Linked DNA regions of Homo sapiens: region 2 is linked to region 1. The links come from fine-mapping of genetic effects on gene expression. A gene starts in region 1. The other region holds a variant in brackets. All regions are shown on one strand. Distances are from middle to middle.

The links.
Region 2: its variant is fine-mapped to the expression of TMEM242 in whole blood (TOPMed, PIP above 0.99).

The regions. Positions count from the first base shown.
Region 1 is chr6:157,321,566-157,326,936 of GRCh38, forward strand. TMEM242 (transmembrane protein 242) reads right to left here and starts at 1,954. Exons shown (of 4, transcript NM_018452.6): 1 at 1,847-1,954; 2 at 1,140-1,240. The coding sequence starts at 1,934. It overlaps TMEM242-DT (TMEM242 divergent transcript), which reads left to right and starts at 2,069. Exons shown (of 1, transcript NR_187268.1): 1 at 2,069-2,912. It overlaps LOC105378076 (a long non-coding RNA gene), which reads left to right and starts at 4,666. Exons shown (of 3, transcript XR_943165.2): 1 at 4,666-5,354. RefSeq lists enhancers at 1,717-2,056, 2,237-2,666.
Region 2 is chr6:157,271,717-157,277,087 of GRCh38, forward strand. No RefSeq gene overlaps it. Among named protein-coding and RNA genes, the nearest start is that of TMEM242, 49 kb to the right of the region's middle. RefSeq lists enhancers at 1,581-2,413, 2,414-3,245 and silencers at 2,040-2,199, 2,630-2,719, 2,920-3,479. The variant C/T (reference allele first, on the strand shown) is at 2,878.

The DNA of each region.
Region 1 (5,371 bases):
AGTTCTGACTTCATGGACCCAAGGATCAAGGATCAGCAGGGTTCTGTGGACTGCAGTTTGAAAACCACTGTTAGACCCCGAAGAGCATCTGTGATGATCAAATCTCAGAATAACAAAATAGGATGGAAAGTTGTGATATGTGTACGTGCGCTCTTCAGCCCCAGAGAATCCCTAGTTTTCATCAGATTATTAAAAAGATCAGTGAGCCAAGGATTAACATAACTTAGGCTTAGAAATCAACCAAAACTCTACTGTTAAGGCACTACTCTGATTTCCACCACAAAATATATTTCTGCTCTGAAAACATTCTATAACATAGAGAGAAAATGACCCACAAGGTCCATAGCAGTGATTTAGGAAGCTCCATATAAGCTTAGAGCATTCAGAGGGGATCCAAGCACACTTTAAACATGGTCTCTTGCCATTATGGTATCGATAAGGCTTAAGTATGATTATTAAAGATAAATGTAAGTGGAAAGGAAACTTGACTTTTTATGATGTTTTACGTAACACTTTTCCTCCATAGCACACATCAAATTGTAATTACACAGTTATTTGTGTGAATATTTATTTATTTATTTTTGAGACAGAGTCTCGCTCTGTCACCCAGGTTGAAGTGCAGTGGTGTTATCTGGGCTCACTACAACCTCAGCCTCCTGGGTTCAAGTGATTCTCCTGCCTCAGCCTCCCGAGTAGCTAGGACTACAGGAGTGCCACACCACACCTGGCTCATTTTTGTATTTTTAGTAGAGATGGGTTTTCGCCATGTTGGCCAGGCTGGTCTCAAACTCCTGACCTCAGGTGATCTGCCCCTCTCGGCTTCCCAAAGTGCTGGGATTACAGGCATGAACCACGATGCCTGGCCCAAATTTAGATTCAAAGTCATGTTGTGAATAGGAAATGTACCAGATAAGCTTTCAAAGTCTTGTTCCGCTAAAATTTAAGAAAGCACATAAGTACATCCTTCTAAATGAAAATAAAGACTTGGTTAATTTGTACATTTCTAGAATCCATGAGCGTATATAAATTCACATCTTAAAGCAATGTGAAAGACCATCAATATTTTATTTTTTCTACGCAAAAGCTGCCATATATTGTAAACAATAACAATGCTATGAATGGATTTCAGTGTCACCAACCTTATTGAACCATTCAGGGCTTTTCTTTTTAGCCAATGATAATGTTGTAATAAATCCAGCTAGCATTCCCGCTGCAGCAACGGTACCAAGGAAAATTCCACCTGCCAAGAGTTTCGGGGAGGAGGGGGGATATTAAAAAAAATTAAATAAAAAGAGGTTAAAAAGATGTACAAAAGTAAGTTTAAGATACTATTCGAGTTACAATCAAAATCACTTTTGAAATTCAAGAAACCATGGCTAAGCAGCTCTTGCTAACAGTAAATGACAGCGGCTGAGAAACACGCGTGACCGCACGACCTCTGGTTCCTTGGGTCATTCCGAATTATTATTCCCGAGCGCAGAGAAAAGGTTCAGCTTCCCTTCCCCTCTCCCCTGGGACCACAGCGTGAAGTTTCTCACGGGGAGGAGAAGAGACGATGGCAATCAGAAAAGGCAAGGCTCTAGAACAATTGCAGAGGTGACGGGGAAATATGGCACGCCCGGGAGAATAGCTCGCGGGATCTGCCCCCCGCCCCGCCCAAGGGGAGACTCCACCCAGTAAGCGACCTACCCTCCCTGGGCCGCCAGACTCCGCGGGCTAAACTCAGGGGCAAGCACAAGCTAAGGGCTCTCAGAGCGGGATGTGTGTGGGAATGCCCGCTCCAGAGCAAGCCAGGGTCCGGGGTTAACTCACCCCGACGCCCGCACCTCACCACAGCACATCTTACCTTTAACCAGGAAAAGCCGGTCATTCGTGGACCCCGGAGCCTCCAGCCCAGAGGCCGGCTGCCCAGTTGCAGCGCCCGCTGTCTCCATGTTTAGGTCGCCTCTAGTGCGTCCGTCCCCAACTGGGCCCGGGTGGAAGCGAGAACCAGGCGGAGGAGAAAGGTTCCGCTACCGCCTCCTCCTGTGCAATCTGAAGAAGGGTCCGGAGTGCGGCCGCTGTCCCCAAACCCTCCTCCCGCGCCGGGGCCGGGAAGACGTGCTGTGCCCAGCCCCAGGGGCGATGCCCTCCAAGGCCGTCTCTTAGGGAGGATCTTTTGATTTCTCCAAGGAGATCATTGCTGGACTTAAGTGATTACTTTGGCTGTTTGAAAGAACGCTCAGCCCCGACTGTAGGAGGCAGTGAGGGTCGCAGATTGCGCCAAGATTCCAGGCCCCGCCTGTGAGACCCTGGAGCTCATTTTCCTGATCAAGCTTACATTGTGTCCAACGATTTGGCCAGCGCTAACACTCCACGATTCTAAAACGCAAGCCTAGGTCTTCTGTCTGTACTTTTCTAGGTAACTTCCCAACAGTGTTGAGGAATAAGTGACAGGCTTTCTCCCTGGAGGAGAGCCAGCCACCCGGTTCTGCGGTGACGGGTACCTCCGCCGCGGTGTGAGTGCTCGGCCTCCGTCGGGAAGTGGAACACTCACAGGATGACCGAATGAAAGTACCACCCCCGAAAGGAGAGCGACGCCCGCTGGAAGCGCTTGCAGAGCTGCCGGCAACGTTGACCGCTAGCAAGCTTGGTCTTCCGCTGGGAGGCTGGTTTGCCCATTCTGTAAATGGCCGTGGAGAGGAGGAGGCTAGTGGTGATAGAAAATCTTTTCAGCCTCTCAGAGAACAATGACATCTTGTAAAATAAGGCGGTCTCTCTGCTATTTGTCCTGCCCCCCATCACCGGAGGGCATGAGTTTCCTGAGGATGGAGATGGGACTCTATGTTCAGTTTATATCCCCCAGCTTTCAGATATTAACTGGTTACCAACATCAAATGCATGTTGGATGAATGAGTAAATGAATGCATCCATTTTTGCGTCAGTGAAGTGCAGTTAATAGCTCAAACCTGGGCTCGGGTCCTAAACCGCTTCTCAGGTGTGTGAACTTGGGGTAACTTAGCCCCTCTATAGCTCAGTTTCCTCACCTGTAAAATTTAAAAACTGGTAGTAGGCCAGGCGCGGTGGTTCACGCCTGTAATCCCAGCACTTTGGGAGGCTGAGGCAGGTGGAGATCAGAAGTTCGAGATCAGCCTGGCCAACATGGTGAAACCCCGTTTCTACTAAAAATACAAAAATTAGCGGAGTCTAATGATGCGGGACTGTAATCCCAGCTACTCGGGAGGCTGAGGCAGGAGAATGGCTTGAACCTGGGAGGGAGAGGTTGCAGTGAGCCGAGATCGAGCCGTTGCACTCCAGCCTGGATGACAAGAGTGAAACTCTGCCATCCACCCCATCCCGCCCCCCCCACACACAAAAACTGATAGTACCTAACTCATAGGATTACTGTGAGAATTAAATGAAGCAACATCTATAAAGAAGTTAGCACAGTGCCTGGCACATATAAATATTCAATACATGTTAGCTCTAACTATTACCACCTTTGATTCCAGTAGCTATTTTGCAGCATTGCCTATGGGGATTTTTAAAAATGATGGATTATCAAGGTCTATCTACCACGGGAGATTAGAGCTCTGAAGGCCCGCGGGTGGCAGGGCAGAATGTAAAAGCTCCGTGGGGTTTCTGATGATAAAAAACTACTGCTCTGTTCAAATTTTTGTGTGGATGAGATCACACAGAATGTATGTGACCTTTGGATTTCCTGGAAACACGTCAGTATCTGAAAGGGCTTTTAAGCTGGTAAATGCTGTGCTAATTTGTTGAAGGACCTATCCTTTTTCCTTCCCCTCATACATAACAGTAACCATAGCTGCTAACATGTATTGAGTGCTTTCTATATATCTGACATTGCACTAAGTGCTTCAAGTACATTATCTCATTTATTCCTCTCCATAAACTCAGAAAGACTAACTTGCTCAAGCTCACACAGCTGTTAAGTGGCAGAGACAGGGCTTAAAAGCAGGTCCTTCCTTATCCACTGTGCCAGTCGTCCTCAAGTGTGAACTTGAATATTGGAATCACCTGGAAGGCTTATTGCACTCAGCTTGCTGGGCCCCATTCCCAGAGTCTGTGACTCAGTGGGGGCTGAGAACGTGTATGTCTAAGTTCCCAGGTGATGCTGTTGCCACGGATTCCACTTCGAGAACATCTTCTGTGTGCCTTCCTCTTATGGATTACACCTCTTAAAATCCACACCATACACTTTAGCACTTGGAAATCTGTTTTCCCAAGACTGCTTAGGGAGAAAAAGTGCAGATTCCTCCACTCTCTTCTTTGCTGTCCCCTTAGAAAACGACAGAAACATTTTAAGGATTAAGCTGGGCACAGTGGCTCAAACCTGTAATCCTAGTGCTTTGGGAGGTCGAGGCAGGCAGATCACTTGAGGTCAGGAGTTTGAGACCAGCCTGGCTAACATGGCGAAACCCCATCTCTACTAAAAATATAAAAATTAGCTGGGTGTGGTGGCGGCGCCTGTAATTTCAGCTACTTGGGAGGCTGAGGCAGGAGAATCGCTTCAACCCAGGAGGCAGAGGTTGCAGTGAGCCAAGATCATGCCACTGCACTCCAGCCTGGGTGACAGAGCAAGACTCCGTCTCAAGATGATGATGATGATGATGATAATAATAATAATAATAATTTAAGGTTTATATCACTGCTTACTATAAGGAACAGAAGGGAGATAATAGATCTTGTAATCTAGGGAAATTACAGAGTCCTGCATTCCAGAGCTGGTCTCCATTGAAAGTAACTGCACATCCTAGGAAACTGGTGTCTGCTTTGTTTTGGATGTTGCAGCTCACAAACCTCTATCTTCTTTCTAAATCCCCAAAGTAAAAGGCAATCTTCCTTTTTTCTACTTGAAAGCTTGTTTTCCCAATATACACAGGACTGAAAAGGCAATTGACACAAACCAATGGTTTACACTTCAGCCTCAAAATTTGCATTTTGAGGATCTTTGTGGGATACATACCAAGGAGAGGAGGAGGTGCGAGCTCCTTGGTCAAGGCCTGTTTGTGGAGACTACTACAGCCCCATTTCTCACTAGCCCCCAGCACCTGCCCTGTGACTTGCTTGGTGCCAGATCCTGGGAGATGGTGTTTCCAGAGCCTCAGAAGCCTGCCACACACTGGGACGGGAAGTCCCTGGCCCTGGGATAAGACCAAATTCCAGGCATCCCAAGTTGGAATGCTGAAAGAAAGCATTTTTTAAAGACAATGTTTCCCAAGGTCTCATATCTCTACAGGACACCCAGTTGGGTACTTTGGGTACAATTTGATTAATTGCACTGCTCTAAGAATTCCACAATTCCACCTAGACTTGTTACTAGAGGAAGATATGACACAAGCTCCAAACAGGTGAGTTGTAGACATTC
Region 2 (5,371 bases), 50 kb before region 1:
CTGGCCTTTGTCACCCACTAGCACTCACTTAGCCTCTCCGCGATGACACAAAATGCCAACAACAGTCAGAGCTTGCCAGCTGCCCAATTGCTCTGCAAGGCTCAAAGCGCTCTTATTACCAAAAGTGAGACTAAAATGCAGATGGTACATCCAACTCAAGAGAAGCTACCCTGCCTAGAGGGTTCTGTATGCTTTGTCTCAAGTTTGAGGCAGTTTAGAGACAGATGAGCAGATAGACTTGCAGAGGGGCTGTGGAGAGACTGCACAAGGGTAGGCAGGTGAGGTAGCAGCCCCCCGCAGACCCAGTCACCTCCCTTGGCCTCTTGGTGCCTGAAATGCTGCCTTCTGATATGCTGTTCATCTGAAGACCTTTCCATGTTCCAGAGTTTCTGCTGAAAATGCAAATATCCCTGGGAGATGTGGTGCCTTACGCCCTCTAGCCTGGGGAAGCAGCTGGCCCTGGCCACCCGCACAGAGCCGGGATGTTTGGGCTCACTCTTCCTGCCTTGTGTGGCCCCTGCATATATTTTTAGCTGATTTTTCAACTTTGCAAACATCCAGGGAGGAAAGAGCAGCCAGAAAACACAGTTCTCAATATTCAGATGGAAAGAAAACTCATTTGTAGCTAATCCTAATGGTTCTCAATTCAAAAAATATGGGCTGGTACCAAGAAGATATTCAAAGATCTCACCATTTCTTGAAGCTGAGTCTTCCCTGGCCTCCATCACATATCCATGACAGTGATAGGGGGTGTGACAGGCACCAGGATTTTTAAAACTCCCCAGATGACTCTGATGGGCAGCCATGCTTGAGAACCCGTGGCCTGGTCCGCTGTTAGGGCGAGAGAAACCCAGGGCTGGTGTTCCCCTCCTCCACCTGCTCGCTGTGTGGTCATAGGTCAGTTCCCCGCAGTCTGAGTGCCCAGCGCTGTCACCTGGGAAATAGGAGGGGCAACTTCCTTCCCAGGGTAGATGTATCAGAGATAATGTGTGTGAGAGTGCCCGAGGCATGGAGTTGGTGGGGGGGGGGGGCTGGCCAAAGAGAGATGTCATTATTTGTGATTTTACTGAGGAAGAAACTGAGGCACTGAAGCTGTGCATAAACCTTGGTCTGGCTCCCTGAAAACGAGACAGTTGGAGTGGAAAATGTCAAAGGTTCCTTTGAGCTCTAGCAATGTGGAGTTCTGCAGTCAGAGGGTTGAAATGCTGGGACATCTTGAATTGTTTTGAAAGGAAAGACTCATAAACGAGGCACATAGAGCCTTAGGAAACAACCTGAATCCATGCACAGTGAAACAAAACGAAACAGAGCCTCAGCTACTGAATTCATCTCCTCCCCTGACGCCCCGTTGCCCAGGGCCTCTCATTTCCACAGACTGCAGTTGCAACCTCTTGGCCCTTCTTGGTCGCCAGTCGTTTCAGGTCCTGGGCTAATGGACGTGGCCTGGGAGTGATCAGCCAGGGCCATTACCCCTTGGACGGTGCTGTAGGCAGACCTAGGCTTCGGGACTCCTGGGCTCCTGGACCCCTGGAAGAGTGTCGAGAAACATCTGGACAGGATTTCTCAATCTGGGCACTACCGACATTTTCAGCAGTGAATTCTTTTTTCGTGGGGACCTGTGCTGTGCATGGCAGAATGCTTAGCAGCATCCTGGCCTCTACCCACGAGGTGCCAGTAGCACCCTCTTAGTGTCTCTAGGCAATACCAGAGACGTCCCCTGGGGGAAGAGAGGCAAAACTCCACCCACCAACCCCCTCCCCCCAGCCTCTCATTGAGAACTGCTGATCTGGAGGCACCCTAGTTGTCCGGAGGCGGAGGGAGGAATGGGGCTCCTTGGGGTCAATATGAATTTGTTTTGTATTCCTTGTATTTAAATCCACACAAGAAAGAGCCACTCTACAAAGGGCAGAGTTGTTTCAACTGCAGATGGACTCTTCCGGGACTAGAGGAAAGGATGGGATTTTCTTCTTCGAGGTGCTCTTTAAAAGGACACCCTGAAGCCCGGCAGCTGCAGCCAGGGATGAGACCTCACCAACCAAGGCGACGTAGGTAACAGGGCCCATGGGCCCCCAGGAGGCTCACAGGGAGGGCCCTCCCCTGGCCAGGCCTCGGGTGGGCTGGGTTTGCCGGCTATGCCCCGCCCACACTCGCCCTCCCAGCGGGCCCAGCTCCTATACCCTGCTGGGTGCGTCTTCACTGTGGTTCACAGAGAGACGTTCTCACTGCCTTGCTCTGTGGAAAAGCAGATTGCCGAGGTGGATGGGAGGGATCCCTATTTTGGAAAAATAACATATCACCGTACACACACCCACACGCAGAGGGGAAAATGTGGCAGCAGACACCAAAATATTCCTATAGTTATTGATGGAAGCTGGGATTTCAGGTGCCTTTTTTGCTTATGTTTTCTCATTTTTTGACCTTGAACATGTAGTTACTTATAACAAGAAAAAGTCATTCGAGAAAGTAAAGAAAGTAGACAGAAAATGGCACCTTAAAACCCAAACCGCCAGAAACACCACTTAGATCTCAAAAAGGCACTAGGAAAAGCCCACTTCTGGTTTTTGGGTTTTGGCAGCCACCATGCAGAGGGCGGCCCCTGGGTGCTGAGAGTTCCGGGGTCGGGAGTGGGATACAGGTGGGTAAATGAGGGGCTCCGAGAGGGTGCAGCTGCGGGCGCTGAGGACTGAACTCTCCTGGGAGCACGCGCGGGGGACAGGGAACGGCGGCCACGCCCGGGGACCGACGCTGCAGCCGGGAGGAGGCTCAGTCTCTGCGCCTGGGGGCGTCCAGGGAGATGCCAGGTGGGCGCGGCCAGACGCGGGACCTGGGGACCACGGCACCCGCAGCCACGCCTTCAGGACGCGTGGGCGGGACGGG[C/T]TCCGTGGGCTTCTGATGAGGACGGTCGGGGAGATGTCGCCTGCGCGTTTCCGGGAGCCTCCAGTGGCCCCGGTTCCAGGGGACCAGACAGAAAACAAAAGAGCAAAAGGCAGCCAAGGCCTCCAGCTAGGGGTCATCCCCGCAGCCCCGGTCCCGGACGGGGCGGGAGGCCGCTGTGGGGACGCGCCGCCGGGCCTCGCTGTCAGGTCGCCCGCGCCCCGCTCCGCCCGCCCCGTACAGGCGGCGACAGCCCCGCCTAGGCCCGCGCCTCGGCCGCCCTCTGCTGGGCGAAGCGAGCACCACGGCCGAGCGGCGGCCCCGGGAGCGCCGCGGGGACTGCAGAGCGCGGGGAAGCGGCGGCAGCGGAGGCTCGGCCTGGAAGGCAGGGGCCTTGGGGGCGTCCGGGGAGAGGGCCGGGGACATCTGTCCAGCGTGGGCCGTGCGCGGTGCCGAGCGCGCGGGGAGGGCCGAGGAGCTAGACGCGGACCCAGCTCCTCTAGGAGCCGGGAGGGATGGGAGGGACGGAGGGTAAACGGGCAGTGCCGGCCGAAGCCCGGTGGGACTCGGCGGCAGACAGACAGGCGGCTTCCGAGGGAGGACCCGGGGCCGGGCGCGGGCGGCGGGAGGCGAGGCCCTGGAGGCCTGGCGCTTCTCTGCACCGCGAAGACCCGGAGGCTTCAAGCAACAGACGCGGTTCTGGAGGCCGGAAGTCCAGAGTCAAGGTCCCCGAAGGCTGGGGGAGAGAATCTGTTCCATGCCTTTCTCTTGGCCTCTGGGGTACAGGGTCCTCAGTGTTCGGGGCTTGTCTCCCGTCACTCCAGTCTCTGCCTCTGTGGCCACATGGCCCTGTGTCCCTGTGTCTGTCTTTTCTCCTTTTACAAGGACAACAGTGGTCTTGGAGTAGAGCCCACTCTCATCAAATTTAGCTTCATTTTGGACGGGCGCTGTGGCTCACGCCTGCAATCCCAACACTTTGGGAGGCCAAGAAGGGCGAATCACCTGAGGTCAGGAGTTCGAGACCAGCCTGGCCAACATGGTGAAACCCCATCTCTACCCAAAATGCAAAAATTAGCCAGGGGTGGTGGCGGGCGCTTGTAATCCCAGCTACTCAGGAGGCTGAGACAGGAGAATCGCTTGAACCTGGGAGGCGGAGGTTTCAGTGAGCCGAGATCGCGCCACTGCACTCCTGCCTGAGCGACCAAGTGAGACTCCGTTTAAAACAAAACAAAACAAAAAAAACCTCCTGTAATCCCGGCACTTTGGGAGTCCAAGGCAGGCGGATCACCTGAGGTCAGGAGTTTGTGACTAGCCTAGCCAACATGATGAAACCCCATCTCTACTAAAAGTACGAAAAATTAGGCTGGTGGCGGGTGCCTGTAATCCCAGTCACTCAGGAGGCTGAGACAGGAGAATCGCTTGAACCTAGGAGGCGGAGATTGCAGTGAGCTGAGATCGCGCCACTGTACTCCAGCCTGGGTGATAGAGTGAGACAGCGTCCCCCTCTCAAAATAAATAAATAAAAATAAAATAAATAAAGTGTGTGTGTATACATACATAGCTTCATTTTAACTTGCTGAAAATGGAAAGGCCTGATTTTCAAAGAAGGCTTCAACACTGAAATCTTCAACACCAGGGGTTTGGACTTTAACATACCTTTTGTGGGGACACAGTTCCACATACAGCAGGCCTGTTCCAGGTGGGCGTGCAAAGTCCACAGGGCTTCACTCCCAAGGCAGAGAGAACCTTGAAAGTTGTCATGATCTCACCTCACCGGAGTGGCCCTAGAAGGCAAGAGCCCAGCCCTGAGTCCCAGCAAGGAGGATTCCAAGCACTTCCACTCCCCAGGGAGGGAGGGGGCCTGGGGACTGCTTGGGGTTTTAGATCAACCCATGTATTGTAGGCAACGATTATTTTATTCTCAAAAAACAAACATGCCACAAATATCCCTCCTTCACTTTCTTTAGTTAGAAGAGCAAGCCATGTTCACTGAGGGAAAATGGGGAAAGTAGATTATAAAGGTTTAAAATTCCAGTGCCCCATGATGGCCGCACACGAAAAGGTGCATCTGTCTACCTAAGTGGGTTGGATGTCACTGTCTGCAGTGGAATAATGCCACATGCCAACCTTTCTGGAACTATGACTTTTGCCGTCACTTTTTGAGTTTAGTTTCCTAGACTCATCAATAGGGCTGTTCTCTGAAAATATGACCTGCAGTTAGGACTCGGTGCCTCTATAAATGGCAGGTGCTTTGCTCATGTGGCTCAGAAGATGTGGAGAGTCTGGGCCTGTCTTGAGGAGGTGAGCTTGGGGAGGGTGCCCCTTGGCCACAGGCGCCACGCTCTGGCAGGACCAGGGGATGTGACCTTCTAAGGAGACACGACCCTGGTAAATAAGCAAGATAGCTGCCGGAAGAATAAGGCGGAAAGTGTCCAGAAAGGATGGGGGTGGGGAAGAGACCCAGGGGTCTCGCAGGCCAGGAGCAGGGCCAGGCTGG